Homo sapiens: one gene and its partners. The protein of the gene in region 1 purifies or fractionates together with the protein of each later gene. This does not show direct contact. Each region holds a gene or a part of one and is shown in the gene's direction. Other genes may lie near its edges. The genes, in order: SST, PEX7, PCDHGA9 and GAB2.

Evidence for each region.
Region 2: the proteins of SST (region 1) and PEX7 purify together in Homo sapiens (co-immunoprecipitation; one large-scale study listed by IntAct). This does not show direct contact.
Region 3: the proteins of SST (region 1) and PCDHGA9 purify together in Homo sapiens (co-immunoprecipitation; one large-scale study listed by IntAct). This does not show direct contact.
Region 4: the proteins of SST (region 1) and GAB2 purify together in Homo sapiens (co-immunoprecipitation; one large-scale study listed by IntAct). This does not show direct contact.

What each region holds. Positions count from the first base shown.
Region 1 is NC_000003.12:187,666,753-187,672,771, reverse strand, and holds SST (somatostatin preproprotein), read left to right. Parts: upstream 1-2,377; 5' UTR 2,378-2,480; coding exon 2,481-2,618; intron 2,619-3,494; coding exon 3,495-3,707; 3' UTR 3,708-3,860; downstream 3,861-6,019.
Region 2 is NC_000006.12:136,907,728-136,912,850, forward strand, and holds part of PEX7 (peroxisomal biogenesis factor 7), read left to right. Parts: intron 1-5,123. UniProt on the Homo sapiens protein: Receptor required for the peroxisomal import of proteins containing a C-terminal PTS2-type peroxisomal targeting signal. Specifically binds to cargo proteins containing a PTS2 peroxisomal targeting signal in the cytosol.
Region 3 is NC_000005.10:141,404,505-141,410,706, forward strand, and holds part of PCDHGA9 (protocadherin gamma-A9 isoform 1 precursor), read left to right. Parts: coding exon 1-872; coding exon of another isoform or gene 873-935; exon of another isoform or gene 936-995; intron 996-3,516; exon of another isoform or gene 3,517-3,698; coding exon of another isoform or gene 3,699-6,161; intron 6,162-6,202. Other genes in the region: PCDHGB6 (protocadherin gamma-B6 isoform 1 precursor), read left to right, coding at 3,699-6,116. UniProt on the Homo sapiens protein: Potential calcium-dependent cell-adhesion protein. May be involved in the establishment and maintenance of specific neuronal connections in the brain.
Region 4 is NC_000011.10:78,217,063-78,223,264, reverse strand, and holds part of GAB2 (GRB2-associated-binding protein 2), read left to right. Parts: intron 1-737; exon of another isoform or gene 738-1,069; coding exon 1,070-1,160; exon of another isoform or gene 1,161-1,485; coding exon 1,486-1,588; exon of another isoform or gene 1,589-2,476; intron 2,477-2,820; coding exon 2,821-2,946; intron 2,947-3,849; coding exon 3,850-3,993; 3' UTR 3,994-6,202. UniProt on the Homo sapiens protein: Adapter protein which acts downstream of several membrane receptors including cytokine, antigen, hormone, cell matrix and growth factor receptors to regulate multiple signaling pathways.

The sequences.
Region 1 (6,019 bases):
TCTCAGACTCATAACTCTCCAGGAGTTATAAAACAACAAAAGCAAAACCCTTAAGTCATCTCATTTACAGCTTCAGCTCTTCAGCAGGGTATGAGGGAAGCAACTGTTTACTATTCATAAGTAGATACTTAAACAGATAGACATCATGAGGTTTTTTGTTTGTTTGTTTTTGGTGAGAAGCAGTTGAGGAGGGAAGAAGAAAGAAAAGAGGAGAGAAAAGAGAGGGAGAGATGTCTTGAGGCAGAGACTGGGATAGGCACTGGCTAAGCAGGGTGAGAAGGCAGGGAAAGAGCCGGGCTGACCCAAACCAAAGTCAGAAAATGATTGAGAAGAGCAAGAAAAACAAAGGAATGAGGATACAGAGTCAAGAGAGGAGACAAAAGAAGGATTGAGTGAGGAAAATTCTGAAACATAAATTTGCAGAAAGGTTAAGGAAAAGGAGGAATAAGAAGGAGGAGAAAGTGTAGAGGGAGAGCACAAGGATGTGGAAGGAGGGGAGCAAGCGTCTGGGGAAGGAGACAGAAGAGATCCTAGAGCACAGGGGAAGATGGGGAGCTGCTATTTGTTCTTCGGCTGGCTCCTGCTTTGGAAAAATCCTCGTTTCCTACTCAGTGGGTATGCCAAAGACCACATCCTGGGTACAGGAGATATGAGATCATTTGGAGGTACCTAGAGACAGTCACAGTGATAGAACTAAACTCTGAGTCCTTAGAGGCCAGAGAGAGTTGCAAGATTTAGAGAATATAACATGTATTTCCTAGGACTGGGTTCCACAGCTCCAGATTCATTGATCTCTTAGACTACTCCAACACATGTGAATGACTTTTTAATGCCCCACTTTGTGCTTAGTCTTGGCTGGCCTTGTCAAGACCTGGAAACTTTAACACTTCTTGCTGTGCATTTCCGCTTTGCCTTGGATTACAAGCACAAAAAGAAATAGTGACAATTATTCAAGCCATTCAGGATACTTCCCAAACCCTTCTGCCTCTCAACACTGTGGTTCGGGTCTAAGTACTGAGAATATTTTAATACCTAATATGAGCTTCGCATGGTTTCCAGAGATGCAGCATATCTTTTTAGCTAATATTGGCTTTTTTGAAGCTCATAAGATAACAGCTCTTAAAGATCCTGTAGGGATCATCTCGTCCATGCTAGGAAATTAGCTGGTCCTTCCTCAGTAAGGAACTATTTAGATAAAAGCAGTCAGAACTCTGGCCTGAACAGTAAACATTTAACCAGAGTTCAATCAGAATTCAAGGACAGGTTTTCTTAAACTTTCTTTGTTTCTAGGAGATCAGGCAGAGCTGAATTTAACCAAGAATCTTTTGATCCTTTCCACATATAGATATACAATAGTGGTCACATATGTTCTGGGAGTTCCTAGACCTTATATGTCTAAACTGGGGCTTCCTGACATAAAACTATGCTTACCGGCCAGGAATCTGTTAGAAAACTCAGAGCTCAGTAGAAGGAACACTGGCTTTGGAATGTGGAGGTCTGGTTTTGCTCAAAGTGTGCAGTATGTGAAGGAGAACAATTTACTGACCATTACTCTGCCTTACTGATTCAAATTCTGAGGTTTATTGAATAATTTCTTAGATTGCCTTCCAGCTCTAAATTTCTCAGCACCAAAATGAAGTCCATTTCAATCTCTCTCTCTCTCTTTCCCTCCCGTACATATACACACACTCATACATATATATGGTCACAATAGAAAGGCAGGTAGATCAGAAGTCTCAGTTGCTGAGAAAGAGGGAGGGAGGGTGAGCCAGAGGTACCTTCTCCCCCATTGTAGAGAAAAGTGAAGTTCTTTTAGAGCCCCGTTACATCTTCAAGGCTTTTTATGAGATAATGGAGGAAATAAAGAGGGCTCAGTCCTTCTACTGTCCATATTTCATTCTCAAATCTGTTATTAGAGGAATGATTCTGATCTCCACCTACCATACACATGCCCTGTTGCTTGTTGGGCCTTCCTAAAATGTTAGAGTATGATGACAGATGGAGTTGTCTGGGTACATTTGTGTGCATTTAAGGGTGATAGTGTATTTGCTCTTTAAGAGCTGAGTGTTTGAGCCTCTGTTTGTGTGTAATTGAGTGTGCATGTGTGGGAGTGAAATTGTGGAATGTGTATGCTCATAGCACTGAGTGAAAATAAAAGATTGTATAAATCGTGGGGCATGTGGAATTGTGTGTGCCTGTGCGTGTGCAGTATTTTTTTTTTTTTAAGTAAGCCACTTTAGATCTTGTCACCTCCCCTGTCTTCTGTGATTGATTTTGCGAGGCTAATGGTGCGTAAAAGGGCTGGTGAGATCTGGGGGCGCCTCCTAGCCTGACGTCAGAGAGAGAGTTTAAAACAGAGGGAGACGGTTGAGAGCACACAAGCCGCTTTAGGAGCGAGGTTCGGAGCCATCGCTGCTGCCTGCTGATCCGCGCCTAGAGTTTGACCAGCCACTCTCCAGCTCGGCTTTCGCGGCGCCGAGATGCTGTCCTGCCGCCTCCAGTGCGCGCTGGCTGCGCTGTCCATCGTCCTGGCCCTGGGCTGTGTCACCGGCGCTCCCTCGGACCCCAGACTCCGTCAGTTTCTGCAGAAGTCCCTGGCTGCTGCCGCGGGGAAGCAGGTAAGGAGACTCCCTCGACGTCTCCCGGATTCTCCAGCCCTCCCTAAGCCTTGCTCCTGCCCCATTGGTTTGGACGTAAGGGATGCTCAGTCCTTCTAAAGAGTTTTGGTGCTTTTCTGGGTCCCTCAGCTCCCGAAGCTCTTGAGAAAACTATCAAAGGCTAGAATCCCCTTCTAACTCTTTTTTTCCCCCATGATAAGCGCAGTCGGTCACAGTTCAGGTGAGTTCTTACTTGGCATTCAAGAAAATTACAAAATCTGGGTAGTTGTCTGGGCACGAAGCGACAATGGCGTCTATCCCTGGTGCTGACCCTGGGAAGCGCTGACCCAGGTGCTGAAACGCAGACCTCTGAAGCTGCTACCTCTTAGCGTACCTCACTTCCAAACGTCGGGACTAGGGCAAAGGGGCAATCTAAAGACCGAACGCCGTATGTTTGAGATTGTGAGAAGTCTCGTTCCCCTACAGTTTACTTGGTAAAAATGGTAAAACAATTCTACTTTGTAGCTCGTGATGTGAAAATTGAATTAAACTGTTGGCACACACTTTATCTTACCAGAACGGTCTTTATGTGTGTGTGTGTGTGTGTGTGTGTGTTTGTGCGTGTGTGTGTGTGTGTGTGTGTGTTAAGTCTACAGGGACAGAAAGGTTGCAGAAACATTTGAGCTCTTAAAGCCTTTTTGTGTAACTTGGTAATTATAGCAACTATCCTTATTTTTATATCCTTGATTGATTTTAAATGTGACAAAAAATGCGCAGCTGTAAAAACTGGATTTTGTGTGTGACCAAATCTGTTCTTTAATTTAGGCTTTTCAAATTTTTTCCATTGTCCTCCCCACTTCTCTTTCTCTCTTTTTCTATCCCTTCTGCCCTATACAGGAACTGGCCAAGTACTTCTTGGCAGAGCTGCTGTCTGAACCCAACCAGACGGAGAATGATGCCCTGGAACCTGAAGATCTGTCCCAGGCTGCTGAGCAGGATGAAATGAGGCTTGAGCTGCAGAGATCTGCTAACTCAAACCCGGCTATGGCACCCCGAGAACGCAAAGCTGGCTGCAAGAATTTCTTCTGGAAGACTTTCACATCCTGTTAGCTTTCTTAACTAGTATTGTCCATATCAGACCTCTGATCCCTCGCCCCCACACCCCATCTCTCTTCCCTAATCCTCCAAGTCTTCAGCGAGACCCTTGCATTAGAAACTGAAAACTGTAAATACAAAATAAAATTATGGTGAAATTATGAAAAATGTGAATTTGGTTTCTATTGAGTAAATCTTTTTGTTCAATAATACATAATAAGCTTGAGTGGCGGTTTCAGTAAAGTTATTTGAGATAGGTACTCCAATGTTCACAAACATCTATTTAAAATTCTCGGTGGCAATAAAGTTTACATTTTAAATGATAACTATTATAACATGAGTCATTTTAAACAGAAATAATTTCACATAACTCTATGCATTCAAACTTTAATTCAATGATAATTACTGGGAGAGGCTGACATAAACATTAATTACATATTAAGTACACCTAAATTATATGTTGGACTATTGAAATGAGTGTGTGTGAATAGTTAGGCTGAAAAATCCAACTATCTACCAGGTTGATATGTAAAATACATAACATATGAAAAGATGGAAGGAACAAAGTCATTTGGTGGTTGAGAAAAAATCTGACTTAAATAGCTAAAATGAGGTTCTGAATTTGTTTCTAGTTTGTAAACATTTATCTAGAGAAATACCATTGCTTTTGTGTCTTCTTTGACAATCCTCTCTAATTGAACAGTGCTAAATGACTGTTTTAAAAGCAAGCTTTTAAGATATTTTTTCTCAGGGAGAAATATCACTTTTATTATAAGATTCCTTCTGGAAGTACTATAGGTTGCAAGAAATGCATATTGGCTTACCTCACTGAGTGCTATCTATATTGCAGGTATTGGAGCTCAAAATCATAATTATGAAATAGCTGAAGGAGATATCTCAAGTCTTCTCTTAATTCTATCAATATGGGAGTCAAATAAAAACACAAAAATTATTCTTAAACACTCAGTAAAGGTGATAGTCTTATAACAACATGCTAAATGGGATCACTCAAGACAGAATGTAAACATTGCTAATTTAACTTCCTGAGACCTAAAGAGATATCCTTTGGGGGATGTGTGTTTTAGCTATCAACTGCATTTCTGCATAGCTACTGGAATAAAAACCAAACATAAATATGTATGCTCAATATAAATCCTTGTAGTATAAACTAACTGATAGTATCATATAAACATTTAAGAGGAGCTTAATATTTTATAGAAAATATTTGTGTTAGATAATACACATTTGAATGTGGTTGGCTTAGAGGAAGTTAATTTCTAACAGCTGATCAAACAAAAGAAAAAAAGCCAAGCCACTTTACTAATCTCTGTGAAAACAGAACATCCTTTGATGTTCTGGTATACCTTTTATTTGCAAGACATTTAGGTGTGGGGATTAATGCATGTCCACTTATGGGATCTGTCTGTGCCAAAGGCCTTATGTACACTGGCTACCAAAAAATTCAGTGGAGTAACAGCATCATATTATAATTACAGCACAGATGAGAACACAACTTAATGATTTTCTGGGCTGTGTATGAGTGTCAGGGGATTTCGAGTTTTTAGTACCATCTTTGTTGTCAGTTCTCAATGGTAGTATGAAAATAATTGGCTTGGGAAGCTAAGGTGGGTGCATCACGAGGTCAAGAGATCGAGACCATCCTGGCTAACAGGGTGAAACCCCGTCTCTACTAAAAAAAATACAAAAAAATTAGCCTGGCGTGGTGGCGGGTGCCTGTAGTCCCAGCTACTGGGGAGGCTGAGGCAGGAGAATGGTATGAACCCGGGAGGCGGAGCTTGCAGTGAGCAGAGATTGCACCCCTGCACTCTAGCCTGGGTGACAGAGTGAGACTCCTTCTCAAAAAAAAAAAAAAAAAAAAAAAGAAAAAGAAAAAAAAAGAAAATAATTGGCAAGAATTATGTAGTCATATGCTCACATATATACATATTTTTAATTTAAAGCTTAAATTGAGTAAAACATCTGAACATAATCAACTTTCAGCCTCAGTTTGCCCATTTCTGTAAGCAGAGGGTTGTATTAGAAAAGGCACTCACATCTCTTTCAGCTGTGACTGAGGACTGCCACTTTGTGCTTTGACATTGAAAAGGGTGCTCAAGGATTGCTGATCTTGGGCTGTTTTAATTAATATGTAGAGTATAGCTTTGTTTTGCTTTGTTTTATTTTACATATACAGAGGGTCTTACTTTTTACTTCCTATTTAGTTTATTTGAGTTCCTTTTAAGTCTGATTCACTGAAAGAGTCTAGCATTCTAGCCTGTTTATTATCCATCCAGAGTGAATCATCTATATATTTTCCTTCTTCCATG
Region 2 (5,123 bases), on another chromosome or scaffold:
AATCATTTGAGATAAGTTACCTTATCAGTTGCATGTGTAAATATTTTAATAAAGTGGAGGGAATTGATGCAATTAAGGGATATAAATTCATTTTCTAAATTTTACACGTATTTAAAGTGTTGTATTTCCATTTTAATGTTTCCTTCTCTAAAATCCACATTTATGGGACCATTATTATTGAAGATGTTCTATAATACATATGATTTGATCCACTATTGGTAAATTTTTATTATAGTCTTCTTAGTGAATGCATGTTTCTTTACTATCTTTGGATTTATGTAGCATTTAGTCCAGTATTTTGCATATAGGAAATGCTGAAATACTGGTTTAATAGAGTTGCTCTCTGGCATTCCATGTATGAAGATGTCTTAATGTATATGCCATACATACCTCTGTTTAGAAATTAATAGGCTTTATTGACATAAATTTCTGTTCAGTTTTTCAAGCTTTATTATATGTTTTGAAGAAACTGACACATTAGTTCAAAGCAAGTAATTTGTATTTCTGATTAGTGTGCTTATTCTTATAACAGAAATACCTATTTTGCTGTATTAAAGTGAAAATGAAATAATTAAAAATAGAACTTATATGGCATCTTACCCTATTAGTTTAGTTTTTTTTACTACCCTAGTAGATAGCATCTTTTAAAATAATAAGATTGGTTCTCTCTTCAAATTTTACATTAAGAAATATAACATTTTGACAAACCATTTTTTTTTCTGTAATGTCAGTAATTTTAATTCTGACTTTGATGAAAAGATTAGCATGTTGGTCTTAGCTTAAAGGAAATTCAGAAGGGCATAGGGATGAAATGTACCACAGCAGGGGCTTGTGAGTAAAGGAATACATTTTCCACTTGTGTATCCTTGGGCGGAAGCAGTAGAGCCTGGAGGCCCCTGCCCTTGAGTGTCCACATGCACACTCATACTGTAAGGGAAGAGAGTCAAACAAGAGATACCCCAGCCTTCAAAAAACCCTAGTTGGGATTCAGAAAAAAACTGCCTCTCGAAAGATTGAGTTTCGTCAGAGGAGTTATAATGCAATTATAACTTTTAAATTGCCTTAAAACTAAAACTTTCAGTTCTTCACTTACTCGGATGTATCCCACTGCCTAGAACATTTTCCTTTTTTCCACTGTGCCCCTGACCCAAAAACAGCAACAAATGCTGTCTAGCGGGTTCCTCCTTTAAGCCTCAGCTTAGATACTACTTCCACCTGAAAGCAGGCACTTCCCTCACATTCGATTATAATGGCCCCTTGCCTACTTTTATGGGACCCCATAATTCCTCTATCATTTTACATATTACGCTACAGTATAGGTGTCTCTTTGCTTACCTGTCTCTCCATTACAATCAAGATCTGTGGAGCCAGAGACCAGGACCCTTGTGTTTATTGTCGTAACCTGTACATACTTCTGACACAGAGGAGGTTCTTAATAAGTCTTTGTTGAATAAATGGATGAATAGGTGTATACATAAATTATCTTTTAGATAGCTTTGTAATTCTGAGGAATATTTGACAAACAGTTCTTAGGACACAAAGGCAAGCTCCCTGTGAAACTTCTCTAAATATTCCTGAAATTAAAAACAAACAAACAAAATATATATCCTTCAAATCCCATAAAACTTGTTGCTTTTACCCACATCTCTGACCTCACACCTAATTGGATGCTTTTTATTATGTGAGGGGCTCTCTCTACTCAACAAAATCTTGCAGTGCTACCAGAAGCCATTGCAGTGGCAGTGATAATTAATAAGAGGTCCCCTGGGGACCACATGGCACAATAGTTTTTCCTTACCAGGAAGTTCCTACATAGCAACCTTGGAGAATCTAGAGCCTCTTTGTTAGTTAGTAAAGTGCTTTTTTCTTACCTTATTATTATTTTCTTTATTGTTAGCTTGCTTAAATTTGTAGAACCAGATAGGGCTTAATTAACAAATAGAGGAATACTATTTTCATCAATTTGAATTAATCTATTCATAATTCTATATCATTGCAGTTTTAGATCTATCTTAATCCAATTAAGTATAGATTTATGAACATTTGCTGAATCAGTGGCCTTGACATTTGGTAGTTATTATAAGTCCTGAATAAATAAGAAGCTGGATTGGAGAGTGCCGAATAAGGTTTCAGAAACATAATTTATAGATACCTTGCACTAGAAACCTAAGTCTTATTTCTCTGATTCTCTTCTCTCCAGTAGCGGATGCTTAACATGTGGGAAGGCCCAGCACTTGAAAAAAATAGGCATAGATGAGACAGGGGTAATTTAACATAATGATCTTTGTGTCCTATGGTATAAAAACTGAAAACTGCAAGATTAGGCAAATAATGGTTTTCAGTTTGCCTTTTCTATGAGGCACTGTTTTAGTGGATACATTCAACAGGTTTAGGTTCTGGCTGTAGCTCTGCTACTCTATTGTGAACATGAGGACAGAGTTAACCTCTGAAATTGTAATCTATGAAATTAATTTGTTGAGCCAATATTCATTGAGTTATGTTCTAATAAGACATGGTCCATGCCCTCAAAGAGCTGAAGACAACTCTTTGTCTTCAGTTGGGAAAATAAGTACAATCAAGTATTATGGGTACAATGAATGACTTCATAGAGGAGATGATACCTAAACTGATTTTTTAAAAAAGAGACATCTCTGGCAGAGCAAGGCAAAGGGGACAGAGGAGCAGACAGAAAGGGAGGGAGAAGAGGAGTTATTAAAGGGAAGCGATCAGTAAAGGAACAAGAGCGAAGAGGCATAAGCAGCATGCTTGGATTTGAGGTGTGAGCCCGGTGCAATGAGAAATGAAATGGGAACAACCAGATCTTGAAGAGTGAGGTTTTTAAATTTAAAAGTTTGACTAAAAAGTCTATAATGCTCTCTGTAGCTTGGATTCTGATCTCAGAATATTGGTAGTGAATGATTGGCTATCACTATTCAAAATTAGTGATAGCCAAGAAATTACATTAGTCAAAACGAGGTTTCTCTTGTGTAATTTTCAGCCTTTGTAATAAGCATGAAAGGCTGGGAAATGGAGTGCAAATACTTTTGGTCAAAAGCACTCTCTTGCTACTTCATCTTTCATTTTACTGCCTACCTTGTTTCTTTTCTTCTTTTTTTTAAATTGTGGAAAATTTTGAAAACATACAAAGTAACAGAATCAGATAACGAACTTCATTACTTAGCTTGAACAACTATCAACATTCTTATTTTATTTATTCCTGTACTCTCACACATCGTTTAGTTATCGCTAACATTATTTTTACTATTTTTAGGTATAATTCACATATATTGAAATTTACAAATCTTAGATATACATTTTTGACAAATAGATACGTCTGTGAAATTCACATCATCCCAGTTATTGGAAACTGGGAAAGCCCCCAGTTTCCTTTTTACCCCTTTCCAATCTCCCCTATCCCCACCCTTCCCTCCAGGTGAGAAGAGTAACATTGTTCTGACTTTTTGTTTGTTTGTTTGTTTACCTTAGATGAGTTTTGCCTGTCTTAGAATTCTATAAGGAACTCTTCTGTATGTCCTCACTTGTTTCTGGCCTCTTACCTGTGAGCTTCACCCGTGGTACTGAGCCTGTTAGCAATTCCTCCCTTTGTTTTGCTGAGCACATGCTGTTGTATGAATTTACTACAATTTGTTACCGATTCTTTTGTTAGTGGGTATTTTGGTTGTTTTCCTTTTTTTTTAGACAGAGTCTCACTCTGTTGCCTAGGCTGGAGTGCAGTGGCATGATCTCGGCTCACTGCAACCTCTGCCTCCCAGGTTGAAGCGATTCTCCCACCTCAGCCTCCCTAGTAGCTGGGATTACAGGTGCACACCACCACACCTGGCTCATTTTATGTATTTTAGGTAGAGGTGGGGTTTCACCATGGTGCCCAGGCTGGTCTCAAACTCCTGACCTGAGGTGATCCATCTGCCTCAGCCTCCTAAAATGCTGGGATTACAGGTATGAACCACTTTGCCCAGCCTTGTTTTCGATTTTTTGCTATCGTGAATGAAGTTGCTATGAACATTCGTGTCTACATTGTTTTGCAAACATATGTTTTCATTTTTCTTGGACAAATATCTGGGAGTGGAATTACTGGGTCAAAAGATAGGTATGTGTTTAACTTGGTAAGAAACGGCCAAATTGTTTTCCAAAATGGTGGTACCATATACCTTCCCTACCAGCAATGTATGTGATCACAGCTGTTCCACATCCCTGCTGACATTTGGTGTTGTCAATCTTTAATTTTAGCCATAATGTGAATATATGGTGGTATCTCATTGTCATTTTTATTTGCATTTCCCTAATCCCTAATGATGTTGAGCACTTTTTTATGTGCTTACTTTTGCCCATCATTTTTCATTAGATTGCCTTTTATTATTGAGTTGTATTGGTTCTTTATGTATTCTTGATACAAGTTGTCAGGTGTATATTTTATGAATATTTTATATAACTGTGTCTTGCCTGTTCATTTTCTTAACAGTGTCTTTTGATGAGCAAAAGTTTTATTTTTGATTGAGTGTAACTTACCAAATTTTTGATTATTACTTTTTGTATCCCTAAGAAATCTTTACTTACCTCTGTATTGAGAATATATTTTCCTTTTTTTTTTTCTGAAAGTGTTATACAGTTTGCTTTTATATTTAGGTCTGTGGTGCATCTCAAATTCATTTTTATGTGCAAAGTTGGGGTCAGGATTCACTTTTTTCCCTATGGATATTCAGTTGTTCTGCCACCATTTATTGAAAAGACTATTTTTTCCTTTTGCTCTTTAATTGTTTTGGTACCTTTGTTGAAAGCCATTTGTCCAAGTGTGGGGCCTATTTCTGAACTCTGTTCTCTTCCTTTGATCTACTTGTCTTTATCCTAATCCTGCACAGTCTTGATTACAGTAGTTTCGTGCTGAGTCTGGAAGTCAGCTAGTGTTAAGTAGTGCAGCTTTGTTTCATTTCAAGATTCTTTTGGCTAAGTCCTGGCATTTCCACATAAATTTTAAAAATTGCCTCATCCATTTCTATTAAAAAACGAGTATATAGAAACACAGTGGTTTTCATATATTAATTTTATACCCGGAGACATTGCTATATTCACTAAGTTTTTAATGCATAGTTCCTGAACACCCTGGA
Region 3 (6,202 bases), on another chromosome or scaffold:
GCTCCTTTGACTATGAGCAGTTTAGAGATTTGCAAATGCAGGTGACGGCAAGTGACAGTGGAAGCCCACCACTTAGCAGCAATGTGTCATTGAGACTGTTTGTTTTGGACCAGAATGACAATGCCCCAGAAATCCTGTACCCTGCCCTCCCCACTGATGGTTCTACTGGTGTGGAGCTGGCACCCCGCTCTGCAGAGCCTGGCTACCTGGTGACCAAGGTGGTGGCAGTGGACAGAGACTCAGGCCAGAATGCTTGGCTCTCCTACCGCCTATTCAAGGCCAGTGAGCCAGGGCTCTTCTCGGTGGGGCTGCACACAGGTGAAGTGCGCACAGCTCGGGCCCTGCTAGATAGAGATGCGCTCAAACAGAGCCTTGTGGTGGCTGTACAGGACCATGGCCAGCCCCCTCTCTCGGCCACTGTCACGCTCACAGTAGCCATAGCTGACAGCATCCCAGACATCCTGGCTGACCTGGGCAGTCTTCAGATCCCTGCAGACCTGGAGGCCTCAGACCTTACCCTCTACCTCGTTGTGGCTGTGGCAGTCGTCTCCTGTGTCTTCCTCACCTTCGTTATCACGCTGCTGGCCCTCAGGCTGAGGCACTGGCACTCCTCGCATCTGCTGCGGGCTACCAGTGATGGGTTGGCTGGTGTGCCCACCTCACACTTTGTGGGTGTAGATGGGGTTCGAGCTTTCCTACAGACCTATTCTCAGGAGTTCTCCCTCACCGCTGACTCAAGGAAGAGTCACCTGATCTTCCCCCAGCCCAACTATGCAGACACACTCATCAGCCAGCAGAGCTGTGAGAAAAATGAGCCTTTGTGCGTCTCTGTTGATTCCAAGTTTCCTATAGAAGACACCCCTTTGGTTCCGGTGAGTTCATTTTTTTTCTTTCTTTCTTTTCTTTTTTTGTTTTTTGTTTTGTTTTGTTTTTGAGACAGAGTCTTACTCTGTTACCCAGGCTGGAATGCAGTGGTGTGATCTCGGCTCATTGCAACCTCCGCCTCCCAAATTCAAGCGATTCTCCTGCCTCAGCCTCCCAAGTAGAGTAGCTGGGACTAGAGTAGAGTAGCTGGGACTACAGGCCTCCCAAGTAGAATAACTGGGACTACAGGCACGTGCCACCACGCCCGGCTAATTTTTTGTGTGTTTTTAGTAGAGACGGGGTGTCACCATGTTGGCCAGGCTGGTCTTGAATTCCTAACCTCAAGTGATCCACCCACCTCAGCCTCCCAAAGCACTGGGATTACAGGCGTGAGCCACTGCGCCTGGCCCTTAACTTTCTATTATAGTTAGCTTTCTCTTTAACTGTCTGTACTTAAGGTAGTATAAGTTGATATCAGTGTGTTTCTCATCACTTTTCACTGGGCCTAATTGTTGCTCCAACACTGAAAGGAGGCATTTATTAGTTATATTTGCTGATATAACTTTCATGTTCTCATAATAATTAACCTGCTGTCAACGTAAACCATACTTCATGGGGTAGCTCTCAGCCTGCATTGATGTGGGCTTTTTGGGTAGGGTTGCTTCATTGGTTGCAGTGGACTCATATCATAAAATTCTTACTCCTTTTTTTTTTTTTTTAAGAGATGGGGGTGTCATTCTGTTGTCCAGGGTGGAATGCAGTGGTGTGGGTAAAGCTTACTGCAGTCTCAATCTCCTGGGCTTATGCAATCCTCCCACCTCAGCCTTCACAGTAGCTAGGACTGAGGTGGGAGGGCTAGCAAGCTATGTTGCCCAGACTGGTCTCAAACGATCTTCCTGCTTCAGTTTCCCAAAGCACTGGGTGAGGTGTGAACCACCTCACCCAGCAAATTCTTACTCCTACGATCATTTATTCAGGTCATACTATGTTTGTAAGGGTAAACTGATAAAAAGGTAAATGTATTCTTCTTAGAGAAACAGCTGAAAGCCCAGATTTATTGCTTCTATTCTTCCATTTCTATGACAGGAAAACACCTCTTTGAGGTTATATTTTTCAGATCACAAGTGTGTAAAGTCTGTTTGTGTTTACAGATATTTTCTGACGAAGATTCAAACTTCAGTTATCCACTTCCAAACCCTAGTAAACCAATTTTTTCCCTTTAATGGTGAAAGTTGTCACATCTTTTATTCTCATATCTTCAAAGGTCTTAATTTCCTAATGCTTTAATGTTAAATTATGGAGAATAGTAGGACATTCTTCTTTTCTATAGTATATGCTTGCTCAAGAGAAGTTTCTAAGACTGGACACTGTGAAATGACAAAACAAGGAATTAAAAATATTTCTCTCACTTATATATTATTTCTGGCTCAATTCTCCAACTTTTGAGTCTAGAAATGAACTTGCATATCAGATATAATTTAAGAAAATATTCTCAGGAACTGCTGGGAAGATTCTAAAACTATTTTACTGTTTTTAGCTATAAGGAAGAGAATAATGTATTATTTAATGTTATTTTAAACATAGTGTTGTTTCAAATAGTAAATAACATTTCACAAGACATTTGAAAATAAGCTTTGAAGTTGACTCAAAATTCTATGCTAAACATGTGATCCATAGATACACTGATGACTGCTGGCATTTCTGTGGAAATGAAGAATTGTTTTATTTGTTTGTAATTATTTGGGTTTCAGTTGCTTTATTTTTAAGAAAAAAAAGCTGAAGTGTCTGGGAATCCTTTATGACATACAGACATTTTAATTATTTCAAACACGTTTTCCCCCTTAAGTGGGTAGCAAAAAAAATAAAGCATACTTCAGGCTCATATTTTTAACCATGCAACAAGAAAATTGTTACAATTTCTGTTCTGAGGAGTAGCCTTCATACTTAGTATTTATAAATATTGAAATGTATGTTAATTTGGGGAAAACATAACAGATATCCATGAAGGCTTGTATGTCATGGTAGGTAGTTACTATTCGATACCACAAAAATGTCTCTTGCCCTTAAAACCAGAACACGAGGCTCACCAGACAGATGACTGAATGGAGTATGGAAAATCTTTATTTCTGTTTTTCTTAGGCTATGTAGGACTTAACTTATTGTGCATTGGTAACAGATTGTAGAACATAAGCTGAAAGATAAAATTCTTGACCTTAATGTCTCATCTTAAAAAGAAGCATTGGTTGACATTCTATATCTCGTATTACTTAAAAATAATGGGGGAGCGCAGTATATATTAAACAAAGATTGGCTTTGTGGTGATCATTGTTGAAGGTGGGGTGATGGCTATGTGAAGGTTCACTATATATACTCCCTACTGTTGTATAAGTTTGAAATTGTGCATAATAGATTTATTTAAAACACAAAGCATAGAAATATCTACTATAATATTATGGTGAGAGCAAAATTTGAGGGGGATGTACACCTGCATTTTCGAAGAATATATACATTTCGGAGACCGAATTCAAAATGAAAAACCGGGCTGCTGTCCCGCACGGAGCCTCTGGGCGCCGCTGTCGGCCAGTGCAGAGCAAGCGCTGACGCCGGGGATCCGTCAGCCTCTGGCCTGGGATTCCCTGCGCAGCCAACAACAGAAAGAAGAAAACCAGCTCCCACACAGAGCCTCCCGGCTGCGCAGACCTTTCCCAGCACAGCGGATTGCCAGCTCCGAGACCCGGGACTCCTCCTGTCCTGGGCCGAATGCTCTTTTAGCGCGGTAGAGTGCACTTTCTCCAACTGGAAAAGCGGGGACCCAGCGAGAACCCGAGCGAACGATGGGAGGGAGCTGCGCGCAGAGGCGCCGGGCCGGCCCGCGGCAGGTGCTATTTCCTTTGCTGCTGCCTTTGTTCTACCCCACCCTGAGTGAGCCGATCCGCTACTCGATTCCGGAGGAGCTGGCCAAGGGCTCGGTGGTGGGGAACCTCGCTAAGGATCTAGGGCTCAGTGTCCTGGATGTGTCGGCTCGCAAGCTGCGAGTGAGCGCGGAGAAGCTGCACTTCAGCGTAGACGCGGAGAGCGGGGACTTACTTGTGAAGAACCGAATAGACCGTGAGCAAATATGCAAAGAGAGAAGAAGATGTGAGTTGCAATTGGAAGCTGTGGTGGAAAATCCTTTAAATATTTTTCATGTCATTGTGGTGATTGAGGATGTTAATGACCACGCCCCTCAATTTGATAAAAAGGAAATACATTTAGAAATTTTCGAATCTGCATCCGCTGGTACACGACTATCGCTTGACCCTGCCACGGATCCTGATATAAACATAAACTCAATTAAAGATTATAAGATAAACTCTAATCCTTATTTTTCATTAATGGTTAGAGTTAATTCCGATGGTGGCAAATACCCAGAGTTATCTCTGGAGAAACTCCTAGACCGGGAAGAACAGAGATCTCATAGCTTGATATTGACTGCCTTGGACGGAGGGGACCCACCAAGAAGTGCCACCGCTCACATAGAAATTTCTGTCAAGGATACCAATGATAACCCCCCGGTTTTCAGCAGAGACGAATATAGAATTAGTCTTAGTGAAAATCTGCCCCCTGGGTCCCCTGTGTTGCAAGTGACAGCCACTGACCAGGATGAGGGGGTCAATGCTGAGATAAACTACTACTTCCGAAGCACTGCCCAGAGCACAAAACATATGTTCTCATTGGATGAGAAAACAGGTATGATTAAGAATAACCAGTCATTTGATTTTGAAGATGTAGAAAGGTACACCATGGAAGTGGAAGCGAAGGACGGAGGTGGTCTCTCTACCCAGTGTAAAGTAATCATAGAAATCCTTGATGAAAACGACAACAGCCCAGAAATAATCATCACTTCTCTCTCTGATCAGATTTTGGAGAATTCACCTCCAGGAATGGTTGTTGCCCTCTTCAAAACACGGGATCTGGATTTCGGAGGAAATGGAGAAGTCAGGTGTAATATAGAAACAGACATTCCATTCAAGATTTATTCTTCTTCCAATAACTACTACAAACTGGTGACAGATGGAGCCCTGGACCGAGAGCAGACACCAGAATACAATGTCACCATCGTAGCCACTGACAGGGGCAAGCCGCCTCTTTCTTCCAGTAGAAGCATCACCTTGTATGTCGCTGACATCAACGACAACGCCCCAGTTTTCGACCAGACGTCCTACGTGGTCCACGTGGCCGAGAACAACCCGCCAGGAGCCTCCATTGCGCAAGTGAGCGCCTCTGACCCGGATTTGGGGCTCAATGGCCACATCTCCTACTCTATAGTGGCGAGTGACCTAGAGCCCCTGGCGGTGTCGTCATACGTGTCAGTGAGCGCGCAGAGCGGGGTGGTGTTCGCGCAGCGCGCCTTTGATCACGAGCAGCTGCGCGCCTTCGCGCTCACGCTGCAGGCCCGCGACCACGGCTCGCCCACGCTCAGCGCCAACGTGAGCCTGCGCGTGTTGGTGGGAGACCGCAATGACAACGCACCGCGGGTGCTGTACCCAGCTCTGGGTCCTGACGGCTCCGCGTTCTTCGATATGGTACCTCGCTCTGCAGAGCCCGGCTACCTAGTGACTAAGGTGGTAGCGGTGGACGCCGACTCGGGACACAACGCCTGGCTGTCCTACCACGTGCTGCAGGCCAGTGAGCCCGGACTCTTCAGCCTGGGGCTGCGCACTGGGGAGGTGCGCACGGCTCGAGCCTTAGGCGACAGGGACGCAGCCCGCCAGCGCCTGCTGGTCGCTGTGCGTGACGGTGGACAGCCGCCACTCTCTGCCACCGCCACGCTTCATCTGGTCTTCGCAGACAACTTGCAAGAGATACTGCCAGACCTCAGCGACCGCCCTGTACTCTCTGACCCCCAGGCTGAACTGCAGTTTTACCTGGTGGTGGCCTTGGCCTTAATCTCAGTGCTCTTCCTCCTCGCCGTGATTCTGGCCATTGCCTTGCGCCTGCGACGCTCTCTCAGCCCTGCTACTTGGGACTGCTTCCATCCTGGTCTCTGTGTCAAGTCTGGACCTGTAGTTCCCCCCAACTACAGTGAGGGGACTTTGCCTTATTCTTATAATCTGTGCATTGCACATACGGGTACAAAAGAGTTTAATTTCCTAAAATGCAGTGTGCCCCTACATTCCAATGAAGACATGGTTTGCAGTGTTTCTCCTGGAGCCTTAATTCCACCTCATGGTGGGGAGGATTTGACTTCACATCCTGAGACTCTGACTTCGGTGAGTTTCTCTTTTTTGTGTGTGATTTATCTAATAGTCTACTAGTTTCTCATATTTTAGGCATACTACTTTATTTTCATATCTAG
Region 4 (6,202 bases), on another chromosome or scaffold:
ATGCAGATGGTAATTCCTACCTCCCAGGTTTGCTGCAAAGGAGAGCATCTAGGATAGTACTTTGGTACATAGCAGGCGTTCAGTAAAGTCAGCTTTGTGCCCCCTGCATGTAGACCAGGCAAGGTCCTCGTCTGCTACAATCTCACTCTCCTGGCATTGGATCAGTGGCAAGGATTCAAAGGGAGGAGTAGGATAGCTAGGCAGAGATAGCCCCCTGTGGGTCTGGCCAACAGGGAATTCAAATCTTAGCATTTGGAACTGAAGCCCTCAAGCCCTTATGGCATCTACCTTCCTCCACTGTGGCTTGCACCGACCTGGCCAGGAGCAGCAGGGAGTAGTCACGGTGACCATCTATACTTCAAATATGGTCTCTTGGCTGGGCGCCATGGCTCACGCCTGTACGCCTGTAACCCCAACACTTTGGGAGGCTGAGGCGAGTGGATCACCTGAGGTCAGAAGTTCGAGACCAGCCTGGCCAAAATAGTGAAACCCCGTCTCTACTAAAAATATAAAAATTAGCTAAGCGTGGTGGCAGGCGCCTATAGTCCCAGCTACTAGGGAGGCTGAGGCAGGAGAATCACTTGAACTCAGGAGGCAGAGGTTGCAGTGAGCTGAGATTGCGCCGCTGCACTCCAGCCTGAGCAACAGAGTGAGACCCCGTCTTAAAAAATACATATATGTGTGTTAATATATAAATAGTATATATTTTTATAAATATTAATATATTAATATATAAATATATTTTATATATAGTCTTTTATTTTTAAATGAAGTCATAAATTGAGGGAGAAAAATCTGTTGTCAAACCCTGTGTCCCCACTTTTGATTCTGAAAATATAATTACCATAGATACAGCAGAAAGAATATATAATTTGGAATCTGAAGACATGACTTCAAGGCTCATCAATATGGGCAAAGATTATACAACCTCGCTGAGCGTCAGTTTCCCTGTGTGAAACTGGAATGACTTTGCAGGCCTTTATAAACATGCTCATGTGTTATATATAAGGTGTGTATGTGTAGCATTATCATTACTGGCTGATTACCAGACTTTCTTTTCCTGCTCCAGCAAAGCCAACACCACTTGACCTGAGGAACAACACCGTCATCGATGAACTCCCCTTCAAGTCACCTATCACCAAGTCTTGGTCTAGGGCCAAGTAAGTGCGTATGTGTGGGGGTGGGAGCTTGGAGTCGGGCCATTAGGGAAAATGAGTGATGTGGTAGCTGGCCTGTGGGCCGGGACAGCTGGATTCTGATGCTAACGCTATCATTAGCTGATCATGTCTCGATGTCTTGTGGCTTGGTTTCCTCAGCTGTAAAAGAGAATAATTATACCTGCCCTATATCAGATCTTAATCTGATGGAGTGTGCAGCTCTAATGGCTGAGGTCTGGGTGTGTGAGGGTCAGGGCCCAGCTGGAGGCTAGAAACATGGCAGCAGCCATGCAGCTTCCCCAGTGTTAACTCTTCCTTCCCACAACAGCCACACCTTCAACTCCAGCTCCTCCCAGTACTGCCGCCCCATCTCCACCCAGAGCATCACCAGCACAGACTCAGGAGACAGCGAAGAGAACTATGTCCCTATGGTGAGTCCTTCGGGCTTCGCTGGAATGACGCCTTTCAAGTCCCCTGGGACCCACCCCTCAGTTCCCCACTTCCCAGCTTAGCTAACTCACCTCAGCCCAGGGACTCCTTGTATTATTCATGATTTAGTCTCCTGCTACAAACCCTTCTTGAGCACCTGTTTATCAAGCAGTAGGAGTTGTCATCAGATGTAAGGAAGACATGAGACCTGTCCCAACGAAGTCATGGTCTTCAAGAGCAGGGGCCTGCCTCTCATGACAGTGACATGGGTGGCATGATCTGTGCCCTTGGATAGGCAGTGCTGGAGGTATCTCCTCAGTGGTGGAGGTATCTCCTCAGTGGTGAGAGGCATACGTGCACATAACTCACTTTGGTGAGGCCATAATAGAGCTATCAACACAGGCAGAGGAGGATATTTCTTCCCTGAGATTTCCATTAAGGGCGTAACTGCCCAGCACCTGGTAGTCACTGCATAGATAGTGAAAGAATGAATTAACCAACCAGTAAAGCAGCCAACAAACAGAACACAGGACTATCACCTTCTCATTAGAATAAGACTTCCAGAAAGTTCTAGAGGAGGTGGTGCTCTGCTAGAGCACGAGCCTGGATGGACAGGATCCTAGAGCGTGTCATCTGAAGAAATGCGGGCTTGTGCAGCCTGGAGATGAAGCCACCCTCTTCAGATCTTGGAGGAGCTAGGCGGGGGAGCAAGCTGCTTTGGGGTGACTACCCCACTCTAGGCCACAGGTGGGAGTTTCACAGGGGCTGATTTGGTGCGACAGAAGAAAACTTTCCAGTGCATAAAGGAAATGTGCTCCTTTCTTAAGCGCCAGCAAGCAAAGGCTGGATGTCTCAGGAGAGCCACTGTTGATGAGACTTGGCCTGATGTGCTAGAAAGGAGGCAGTGTGGTACAGGGGTTAGCACAGGTTTGGAAGTCAGAAAACAGACCTGATTCCCATCACTCAACAGCTGTGCAGCCACAGGCAAAGTCACTTCTCTGAAAGTAAAGTGAACCACAGTTTCATCTTTGCTTTAAACAGTATCAACAGTAATCATACCTACCTTACAGGATTGTCATGAGGATTAAAATGAAAACATGAAAAGTCCTTAGCATGGTGCATGTGTCAGAGTAGGGCTCAGGGAAACAGTGTTCTTACTCCCAGAGGTGTTTTTCTGGGTGGTGGGTTAGTCTGTTTTCTGCAGTCACTCACAGTTTTTTCCTCCTCGTGACAGCAAAACCCAGTGTCTGCATCTCCCGTTCCCAGTGGCACGAACAGTCCTGCCCCTAAGAAGAGCACCGGCAGCGTTGATTATCTGGCCCTGGACTTCCAGCCGAGCTCCCCAAGCCCCCACCGCAAGGTGCCTGGAGTAGAGTTGGGGGGGCAGTAAGAGCTCTCAGGGTCCCGGAGGCAGAGATCATGGAGGCCAGGGTGCCTTCAACACTGAACAGCAGCACTCAGCCTCCCTCCTGCTCCAGTACCCAGCTTTTATGATGCATCTTTAGTCATAGAGCTTTCATCTAGGTCTAAAGACTCCTATTCCTGCTCTCAGAGCACAGTACCCTCAGTCAGAGAACCTCATCAGTCAGCCCATCCCCCGTGTTGTAGAGATGGGCAAATGAGTGCACAGAGATCTGATTGTCCTAAGGTTACAAAGTGAATCAGCAACAGATCCAGGAATGAGGATACTGCCTCCTGGTCCTGGGCTCTCGAGTGGGTCCAGAGCCCTGCCGTCGATACATCAGCCTTCAGAAGGGACTTCCAGGCCTGGGAAAGCCTCCCCAGGAGGCATCCTTATAGCTAAGCAGTCTAGACAGAAGGGTGCAGAGCTGTGCCTCAGCATGGTTCCCCTTCACAGGGTGGCAGTGAGCACAGCACGTAAAGTCCTGTGGCTGATGTTTGTTTGCACCTAGCAAATTCCTTCCCCTGGATGAGCGACCTGACAGAGATGGGTGGAGGCAGAGATGAAGGCCTGGACCCATCCACCAGGGCCAAGGAAGGGCCTGGGTCCTCCCAGAAGCCGGGAAGTAAGAAGGGCTGGCAGGTGCTGCTACATCCTGCAGGAGGGATGATGAGTTTGGAGTCTGAGCTTTAAAGCCCACATTCAGAAAGAGAAGCCAGGCTCCTGAGGCTGGTCAGTGGCAGGCAGAGGCCATGCTCTTCTCCCCTTCAGACAGCTCAGGAAGATCCCGTGCCCACCTTCTTCCTCCCCACCTAACTGGTAACTCACAGCTACTCCCTCTTTCCCACTCTGTCCCCTCAGCCATCTACTTCATCCGTCACCTCTGATGAGAAGGTGGACTACGTTCAGGTGGACAAGGAGAAGACCCAGGCCCTGCAGAACACCATGCAGGAGTGGACAGACGTGCGGCAGTCCTCAGAGCCTTCCAAGGGTGCCAAGCTGTGATGAGAGGGCCACCGCAGAGCCCAGGAGGCAGCATCTCCAGAGCTGGCCCTTCCCATCTCCCCTCTCCCCTCTCCCGTTCTTCCTCCCATCCACCTCCTCTCTACTCTGCCAGTCTCAGCCTTCAAAGCACTTGACATCAGGGACCCTGAACCCTTCCCCTGGGAGGTGAGGGCCTGATCAAGGCACCTCCTCTGCCCACTCGGGGCCCAGCTGTGATTTTTATCAGTAATGGCCATGCCTCCACCCACCTTAGTTAGGAGCTACTTCCAAAAAGCATCCTTCAGCCTCTTCCTGTCCTTTAGACCTGACTCTCTACCAGATGTTTGGAGGGAAGGGCTGGGGCTCTGAGCCAGATTCCACACCTCACGTTCAGTCACAGCCCTCAGCTATCTTCCCTCCGGCCACTGGGCTACCTCTCCTTCAGTCCCAGAAGACAAGTCTCACCAACCCAGGGAGTCAAGGACCAGCAAACCAAAGTGGATAATGGACTTTTTCATTCCTGTTTTTCTTGGCAGGAGAGAAGCAAGGCCACTAAAAGAGGAGATGGTGGAGACGGAGGCTCAGCAGTGGTCTTGAGGGGTAAAGGACTTAGATGCCCAGATGAAGAGGGAAAGCTGACATCTGCAGGGAACCCACTTTGAGGCTGAGGCCATGGCAGGACAGCTGCTGTGGGGTGCAGAGGCAGAAGATGAAGGACAAAAGGAAGGGAAAACTGATGGCCAACCTAGAGCAGCAAGGAGCAGGGCTTGGAGCTCGGGTGGTGGAGATGACAAGGACACTGTGGGGTCTGGGTCCCCAGAACTCTGGAGCTACAGGCCACTCTAGGCCCAAGGGCTAGTCCTCTTCCCCAGTCCCCTCAGAGGCCCCCGCCAGCCCCACCTTGAAAGCAGCATACAGGGGAAGGCTTGGACCAAGCTGGGCGACCAAGCACATGGGGCAGGAACACATGGTAAAGGGGTGGGGAATATGGGAGGGAGTGTGGTGTGGATGGGGGTGATGCAGGGACTGAGGGGAACCCTGGGACAGGCACAGGCTGGGCAGAGGCACAGGGCAGTGCAGGGGACTCTGCAGTGGGGTCGGGAAGTGAGTTTCTTTGCAGTGAGCAGTGCAGTGGAAGTCGGGCACAGAGGTAGCAGACAGATGTGAAGCAGTGGTGAAGGCCATGTAGCAAGTGGGGAAATACATCCAAAGGGCCTGGGAGTTGGGGGGTGCCCAACGCAATCCTTGGGGGTGCAGGGTGGAGCAGAAAGTGAAGGAGGGACACGTGCAAGAGTGGTGTGCATGGTGGTGTGACATGAGGACCGTTCCTAGGATGGGACAGTGGGTCAGGCAGGACAAGGAGAAAGCAGGGCAGAATGATGCCTAGAGGACCACATCAGGCATGGCTGACAGCTTGTGCCCATGGGCTGTGGCGTATGTCAGATCGCAGGGTAGGAACGAGTCTGGCCTGGTGCCGGCCCAGTGTTTCCTCAGCTCATCCGCCCTCTGTTGCTCCCTAGCATTCCAGGAGCCATCTTGGACTCTCCTCCCCAGGTTTGAAAGGCCATCAGATTAGCAGGGACGGGGTGTAGGGCATCACCCAAGGTTCCTTCTCTTAAACTAAGGGTGGGGGATCTGAATGTTTTTATGTTGACTGTTCTTGACTAAATTTTCAAGAGTTTCAGAAGCAACAGGACAGACCAGACGTTTCATTCTACCCTGGGGCGAACAGAACTTCTTCCTCCCAAACAATGACTTCCTGCCATGTTTGATGGGGACAGCTACCACTGTCCTCTGCCCCCATTCCCCTTTCAGCTCCCATGAGCATGCATAGTTCACCAGACCAATGGCCTAGCCATTCTCTAAGTCCCATCCTGGAAGAAGTTATTTCTTCAAGAGCTGCACCTCTCCTCCTAGCATTAGTTTAGATCAACTCAAGGAGTATTTATTAATGGCTGCTGTCTCCAGTTTCTGGGGTTAAGCACTAAGGACACAAGAATCAATCAGACCTTCTCCCTGAACTTAAGATAGCCACAATCAGAAAAAGGACAAGGACATGAGACAGTGGTGATGGCCATCAGACAGAGACTTCAAATGCTGATGGAGGGCAGAGGAAGTACTTAGGGAGGTTGGTGTCAGAGGCAGGAGTGGGGGATCAGGGAAGGTGGATTCTAGGAAAAGGGAGTGCCTGAGGTAGGCCTTAGAAGGGGATGAGTCAGATTTTTACAGA